2 linked regions of the Homo sapiens genome follow. The protein of the gene in region 2 purifies or fractionates together with the protein of the main gene of each other region. This does not show direct contact. Each region holds a gene or a part of one and is shown on either strand. Other genes may lie near its edges. The genes, in order: ETFB and ELFN1.

Region 1 (2,667 bases), on a different chromosome or scaffold from region 2:
ATAGGAAGGAACTCACCCAAGATCTAGCTGGCAAAGGTAAGAGTGAGCATATGAAATCAATATATCTGACTCTATCAGAAGGCCAGAGGAATGGAACACAATTTTTTAAATAAAAAATTAGTCCAGGCGCTGTGGCTCACGCTTGTAATCCCAGCACTTTGAGAGGCTGAGGCGGGCGGATCACTTGAGGTCAGGAGTTCAAGACAGCCTGGGCAACATGGTGAAACCCCGTCTCTACTAAAAGTACAAAAATTAGCCGGGTGTGGTGGTGCAAGCCTGGGCAACAGAGCGAGACTCTGTCTCAAAAAACATAATTAAAAAAAAATTAACCTGACTGTAGACCCAGGCTGTTCATTGCAACGCTAAGTTTTGATTCTCTGTGGCTTGTCTGTCTCACACCAGAACCACAGCTTCTGGCCTCATTCTCTCCTGTGTCCCTGCTGAGACTGGGGACACAAGAGAGAATGAGTGTCCTGCAAACATCGTGGATAAAAGCCCTTCTTCTCACCCACCTCACTGATATTTGTGTTCCAACACTCAACTTGGAAGTCATCTCCCTGGGAAATCTCTGACCCCACCGGCTGGGCCAGGCCAGGTCCCCCAGTTGGGTTCCCAAGGGCCCAGTGTGCCTCCACGTCTAGCATACTTCACCCCGAATTACAGCTGCCTTTGTCCTCATTGTCCCCCGCATCAATACAGAGGCTCCTCATGGGCAGGGACTGGATCCACAGGGCCTGGCACACAAAAGACTCAAGTAAATGTTGAATGAACCAAATAATGGGTCTCTAGGAAATAAGTTAACAGAGATAGATGTTGAGAGTCAGTTTTATTGCCATCTCTGGGAGGGGCTCAAATCCGCCCAATCTCCTTCAGCTTGGCCACCAGGTCCTCAGTGGTCTCCACCTTGACGCCGGCCGTGCGCTGGGGCGGGTCCTCCACACTGATCACAGAGAGCTTGGAGGTCAGGTCCACACCCAGGTCCCCAGGCTTGATCACCTCGATCTTCTTCTTCTTGGCTTTCTGCACATGGGAAGCCATTGTTCACAGGGCTGTGGAACTCCTGCCACCCTTCCTGCCACCTCCTTCCCATGGGTGCCAGGCCTGCAGACCAGTCCCATGGGCTGAACCCTCTGGACCCACCCACTGGCCAGGACACGCGAAACTTCTCACAGGGCCACACCTGGTGTGGACAACTCCTGCTGGCTAGGAGGCCCTGGGAGGCCCAACTACTGCAGCAGTCCTCCTTTAGGTAACCAAATCAGGAAGCCCTTCACTGGCTGCAACAGAGTGGCAAACCCATCCTTTTGGTAGTAATGACTCAGTGGACTTTTGGTTGAGATGGCATGCTGAAGGCTCCCAATAGGCTGAGATGATGCACTGAACCCTCCCTATAGACTGAGATGATGCGCTGAACCCTCCCTATAGGCTGAGATGATGCGCTGAACCCTCCCTATAGGCTGAGATGATGCGCTGAACCCTCCCTATAGGCTGAGATGATGCGCTGAACCCTCCCTATAGGCTGAGATGATGCGCTGAACCCTCCCTATAGGCTGAGATGATGCGCTGAACCCTCCCTATAGACTGAGATGATGCGCAGAACCCTCCCTATAGGCTGAGATGATGCGCTGAACCCTCCCTATAGGCTGAGATGATGCGCTGAACCCTCCCTATAGGCTGAGATGATGCGCTGAACCCTGCCTATAGACTGAGATGATGCGCTGAACCCTCCCTATAGGCTGAGATGATGCGCAGAACCCTCCCTATAGGTTGAGATGATGCGCTGAACCCTCCCTATAGACTGAGATGATGTGCTGAACCCTCCCTATAGACTGAGATGATGCGCAGAACCCTCCCTATAGGTTGAGATGATGCGCTGAACCCTCCCTATAGGCTGAGATGATGCGCTGAACCCTCCCTATAGGCTGAGATGATGTAGTGAACACTCTGTAATGGCTGAAATGACTCATTGAACCCTCCCCATTAGTTGAGATGATCCAGTGAACCCTCCCTGTTGGCTGAGATGAATATTCTCTATTGGCGGAGATGACCCACTAAACTGTTAATATTGGCCAAGATGACCCAGCGAACCCATCTACTGGCCATGATGATTAGTGAACTCTACCTGTTAGCCAAGAGACCCCATGCACCCTTCCTAGTTAACTAAGATGATCTACATGGTAACTTCACATTGGCAAAAATTACCAAGGGGACCCTCCCTAATGAACCTAGATGACCCAGTGAACTTGTTCCACTGGCTGGAATGACAAAGGGAACACCTTCTGCTGCCCAGCGAAGGCTTTCTACTGGCCTAGATACCAGCAAGCCCTCCCTGCTAGCCAAAGCAGCCCCCATGAACTCTCAGTATTGGCAGAGATGACCCAGCAAACTCTCTCTATCAGCCAAACTCCAGGTGACGGCTTCCTGTGCACGAGACCTCCTTTGGATCCTTCCCTCCCCACGTGCGACCACCGGGGGGCACTGGGCTGGCAATGTGCTTGCCACCCCCAGGCCCTCAGTGCCCGCTGGCCAGGGGCTCACCATGATGTTGGGCAGCGTGGCGTAGCGGGGCTCGTTGAGCCTCAGGTCAGCTGTCACCACAGCTGGCAGCTTCAGGCGCAGGGTCTCCAGGCCCCCATCGATCTCCCGCTCCACTTTCAACTTGTCCCC
Region 2 (4,507 bases):
GCGCCATCGTCCACTGCAGTGGCTCCACCACCAGCCACCCCCACAAACACCCACCCAAGGCCACTTGACACCTGAGCTTGTGCTGGAAGAAACCAAATCCACAACAAAAACAAAAAGGAAAGAGCGGGGGGGGGCGCTGGAGAGATGACAAATGTATCCAATGTCCGCGGCGGTGCCACCATCCGCTCCAGGTTCACGCCTGGAAATTTATGGCCTCATCACCCAGCCCTGGAGATCTATCTATCTCTCGCCTGTCACTCACTTGCATTTTTAATCCTGCCCCCCGCCCCGCCACCGGCCCCCTCGTGTATTTATGCACCACCCACCCGGGCATCTCGAGGGCCTGCCTGTTTCTTTCTTGTGAAGATATATGAACACCCCAAGTCCATGCACCTCTGCTCATAAATTTCCTCCAATGCGATGGTGTCTGAGTCTGGCACGGAGAAACACAGTCCCCTACCAAAATGGGGAATTGGCTTGTCGGGGGGGAAGGGATCCTGGGGTGGGGGCTCTGACCTCAGGGGGACCTTAGAAGGAGGCTTTCCTGAGTGCTTAGAAAATTCTATCAAAATCTAGAGCTGATGCGTGTGTGTTGGAAACAGATAGAGAAAGTCACCAACATGGGACCCAGGCAGCCACTCCGATTTTACCCCATTGATCTCAGGCACTGTGGTCATATTTTAGTCCCATTAATTTTTCTCTCCTGGAGAGCAGGTGAAGCCTACAAGTATACATTTAGGGTGAAAATATTCAAATGCCGGGGTCCGAGACAGGCAACTACTCCAGGCTCTGGCCCTGGGCGCTTGCTGGGACCCCGGACACCTGTTTCTTGGTGGGGACCGTGGTAGGGAGGTGGAGGAGCAGCAGCCTCTCCCTGGCCCAGGTGTGGGGAGCCTGCCTCCAAAGACACTTTGAAAAATCAGTGCTTTCCAGTGGCAGTCCTGGGGCATGGTGGGGAAGGGACGCCGCCCTCCCTCCCCTCCTCTGGTCCTGGGTGCAGGTGCCCACCACATCCCTGCACCCTTACCCCAGACTTACCAGGCCTCAGGAGTGTGGCTCTGGTTCAGGTGCCCACTGGCTTTTCTGGGAGTCGGGAGCTGCCTGCCGAGCCTGCTGTATCATCCTGAATTATACGCACACAGCAGTCCTGCTGCGGCCGAGGAGGAGGGGGCTGCACAGCTGGCTGTAGGACAGGGGGAGGGGCATGGCCCCCAATCTCTGACTTGGAGACCCCCAGGTCTTCTGCCCACTAGGGGTGGGGATCAGAACTCCCTGACCACCGTATGCCCAGGAAAATGAGGGACCCAAGTGCTGGGGTCCTGGCTGGGCTCCAAACCCCCTCAAATCCAGGTGAGGGGGTGACCCCCTCCCACACACGGCCCCCTGGAGTTTGTCCCCCTGCTTTGGTGGAGTGGGGCGCAAACCTGGGCTGGGACCTGTAAGCCAGTCTTCTCAATGCTTGTTCAATTAAAAGGTGGCAGGGGCAGGGACCCAGGGGGCAGGAGGCCAGGGGGCCAGCCAGGCAGAGAAGAGGAGCATGTTGATGCTTTTCAAGCAACCTATGCCCAACCCAATGGGGTTTCCCCCAAGGCTGGGTGCAAGCTGGACCTCTTTGGAGGCTGGGGGCCTCTCTAGGGGGCAGCCCCTGAGAGAGGCAATATGGGGAGATTTGCCATTTACATCTGCTCCTGGCTCCCGGTCCCTCCACAGCTTCTGTCCCCAGGCTCTCCGCACAGCCCTTAGCCCAATCGAGGGAATGAGCGGCAGAGGCAGCCAGCCCAAGCCAGGGTCCAAAGAGGCCCCACTCCGGGTGTGCAGGAAGGGAAAGTGCTGGCACGGAGGCTTTTTGAGGACGTGCACACCTGGCTCGGCCGGCCTCGACCCTTTCTGCTAAGCCTTCGTTTTTTTCAGAAGGCATGATCATCCTAGCCCCATTTCACAGGTGTGGAAACTGAGGCTCTGAGATTCACCTGCCCCAAGGTCACACAGCTGAGACCTGGAAAAGCCGGATTTTCATCTCAGAGGGTGTCGTTTTTATGGGGGGGGGGGCGGTGTGCGGTACGGCAGGCAGTGCCCCCCGCCCCACCCTCAGCATCAAGCAGGTGACCTGCAGGTTTCAAAGGATGGAAATGGGGGCGCTTGTCTTTAGAGGCAGGTTGGGGCACGGAGGCTTGGCAGCCTCCTCCCAGCCCCCAGAGGGACGAGGACGAGGATGGACTCCAGGTGGGGCGAGGGGTGGAAAGCACCCAGTAAGTTCAGTTCGGAGCGAAGCCCCCCACCCCACCCCCCCGCCAGTGGTTGGACTCAGGGGCTGGGACCGAGGAATGTGACCCCTCCCCGTGCGTGACTGGACGGTCCCCGCGCGGAGCGAGGAGGCTCGCAGCGTCGGGGGGAGGGCGGCCCAGCAGGGAGGGCGATGCGAGCCTGGGGAGGGGTCAGCGACTCGGCCAGGAGGTGAGGACAGCCCCCTAATTTCCGGGAAGGGAAGGGCAGGGGGCCGCGTCTGGGGGGCGCCGGGCAGGGTGCGGACGGCGAAGGGGGACGGAAGGGAGAGAGGCGCTGGGGAAGGGACCTCTCGGAGGCACGGGGCAGCGTGCGGGCTGCGGCAGCGACCCCGACCCGGGCCCCCGGGCTTTGTCGGGCTGAGCCTGCGCCCGCTCCGCCGCCGCCAAGTTCCTCCAACTTTGCCCGCTGCGCTCGGATCGCGCGCCAGGCCTGGGGGCGCAGCAGGGGCTGGGGGCGCACGCTGCGCACTCGGGGACGCCCGGGGTTCGAGGTGGCGGGGGGCTTGGCCGCGCCGCTCCCCGGGGGTGGTCCGGGTCCCAAGTCCCCCAGGTTCAGCGCCCGGCCGCGCTCGCCGCTTACCTGCCCGCCCGGCCTCGGTTCCGGGGCTGCGCCCGCAGCCGCCGCCGTCCTTCAAGCTCTAACTTCGCTCCCGGGATTGAAATTCCTCCCCAGCTTCGCCCATCGATCTGCGCGCGCGGCCCCGCCCCTCGCCGCGCGGCCGGGGGGGAATTCAAGCTCGCCCTGCCCCCTCCCGCCCCCCTTCCCTCCCTCCCTCCCTCCTTCTCTCCCTCCCTCGCTCCCTCGCCCGCCTGCGCGCTCCCTTCCACCCCCTCTTCCTCCGCCGCGAGTCCGGCTCGGAGCCTCTGGCCCTCCCCTTCTCTCCCTGGCCTCCCGAGCCCCCTGCTCTCCTCGGCTCCCCGCGGCAACCCGCTCCTTCCCTCTCCCGGCGACGCGCAGGGGCTGGGGAAGGAGGGGAGGTCCTAGAAAGCGCAGGGGGCGTCCTCGCGGTCCGTCCCCGGCCCTCCCCGCCCACATCTAAAAGGTGGAGGGGGTGGGTGGGTGGGTGGGGGGAGTGGGGGCGACAGCTGTTGGCTGAACAAGCTACCCGCGACTCCCACCACCTCAAGCAAAGCCAAGGCGTTCTCAGGTCCTCCCGTCGGTCCGCCCCTTATCCGGGAGGGCAGGGACCTAGGGGCGGAGAACGCAGGGCGCAGGCCGGGCCTCCTCTGCCCAGCCCTGGCCCCGCTTCCTTCCTTCATTCACCCCAACCTCTGTGAGGACTTCAGGGGGTTCTGGAGCACTCTTCGGCTCAGTTTCACCCTGACAACCTGCCTGTGCGGAAGCCCCCGTCCGCATGTTACAGGAAGGGAAACTGAGTCAAGAGAGGCCCAGAATCTGGCCCTACACAGCGCGTCGAAGGCAGAGCCCCAGGGGCAGCCTGGACCCCCGGCAGGAGCCTCGGGACTCCACGCTCGGGCCGGGCAGGCCCCGGCGGTGCCTGGACAAGCCCGCGTTCGCAGAACGGCCGGCGCCTGGGGACCCTCTCCAGTCCCCGCGCAGCCCGCGCGTCCCCGCCGGCGCCCCCTCCCCGCTTCCTGTCCCCCGCCCGCCTCTGGTTCCCGGCCTCAGTACCCCCGGCACGCTCTCCGCTCGCCGCCAGCAGCTGGGCAATTCAACGAGCATACAAAAGAGTTGACTCAATTCAAAGGCAGCAAATCAAGATAAATCCTATAGTGTGTGGGGACCGGAGAGGGAATGTGAATGAACGCCCACGACGCCGTTCAGTCCTGTATGGACCGGCCTAGCCCGGCTGCAGGGCCTGACACGCCCGGGTCCTAGGGTTCTCCAGGAGCCAGAATCGGAGAGTGGGCTCTGAGCTGCCTTGGCTCCCAGGCCCCCAGCACTGGCCCGAATTTAGTAATTTAGAGCTTGTGGCCTCCTTCGGCTGGCTGGGTGGGGCTCCCGTGATAGGGGTGCAGAGCCTTGAAGGGGAGTGCTAGGACGAAAGCCAGTGCGCCCCCACGATTTCATGCAAATACTGGGGGGCAGGGGCCCTGGAAACCCAGCACAGCCCCAGGGGCCGGCAGGAAGGGCACCGGTGGTTTGGAACACCTAAGCTGTGGCCTTTCTCCCTCTGCCCCGACCTGGACCACGGTCAGAGCCAGGCCGCAGGCCAAGAGCAGGTCCTTGTTTACCCACCAGATAGATACTGCAAGCCTGG

What was found.
Region 1: the proteins of ELFN1 (region 2) and ETFB fractionate together in Homo sapiens (co-fractionation; one large-scale study listed by BioGRID). This does not show direct contact.

Annotation. Positions count from the first base shown.
Region 1 is NC_000019.10:51,344,362-51,347,028, forward strand, and holds the end of ETFB (electron transfer flavoprotein subunit beta), read right to left. Parts: coding exon 2,539-2,667; intron 1,021-2,538; coding exon 850-1,020; 3' UTR 808-849; downstream 1-807. UniProt on the Homo sapiens protein: Heterodimeric electron transfer flavoprotein that accepts electrons from several mitochondrial dehydrogenases, including acyl-CoA dehydrogenases, glutaryl-CoA and sarcosine dehydrogenase.
Region 2 is NC_000007.14:1,668,713-1,673,219, reverse strand, and holds the start of ELFN1 (protein ELFN1 precursor), read right to left. Parts: upstream 2,944-4,507; 5' UTR 2,866-2,943; exon of another isoform or gene 1,039-2,865; intron 1-1,038. UniProt on the Homo sapiens protein: Postsynaptic protein that regulates circuit dynamics in the central nervous system by modulating the temporal dynamics of interneuron recruitment.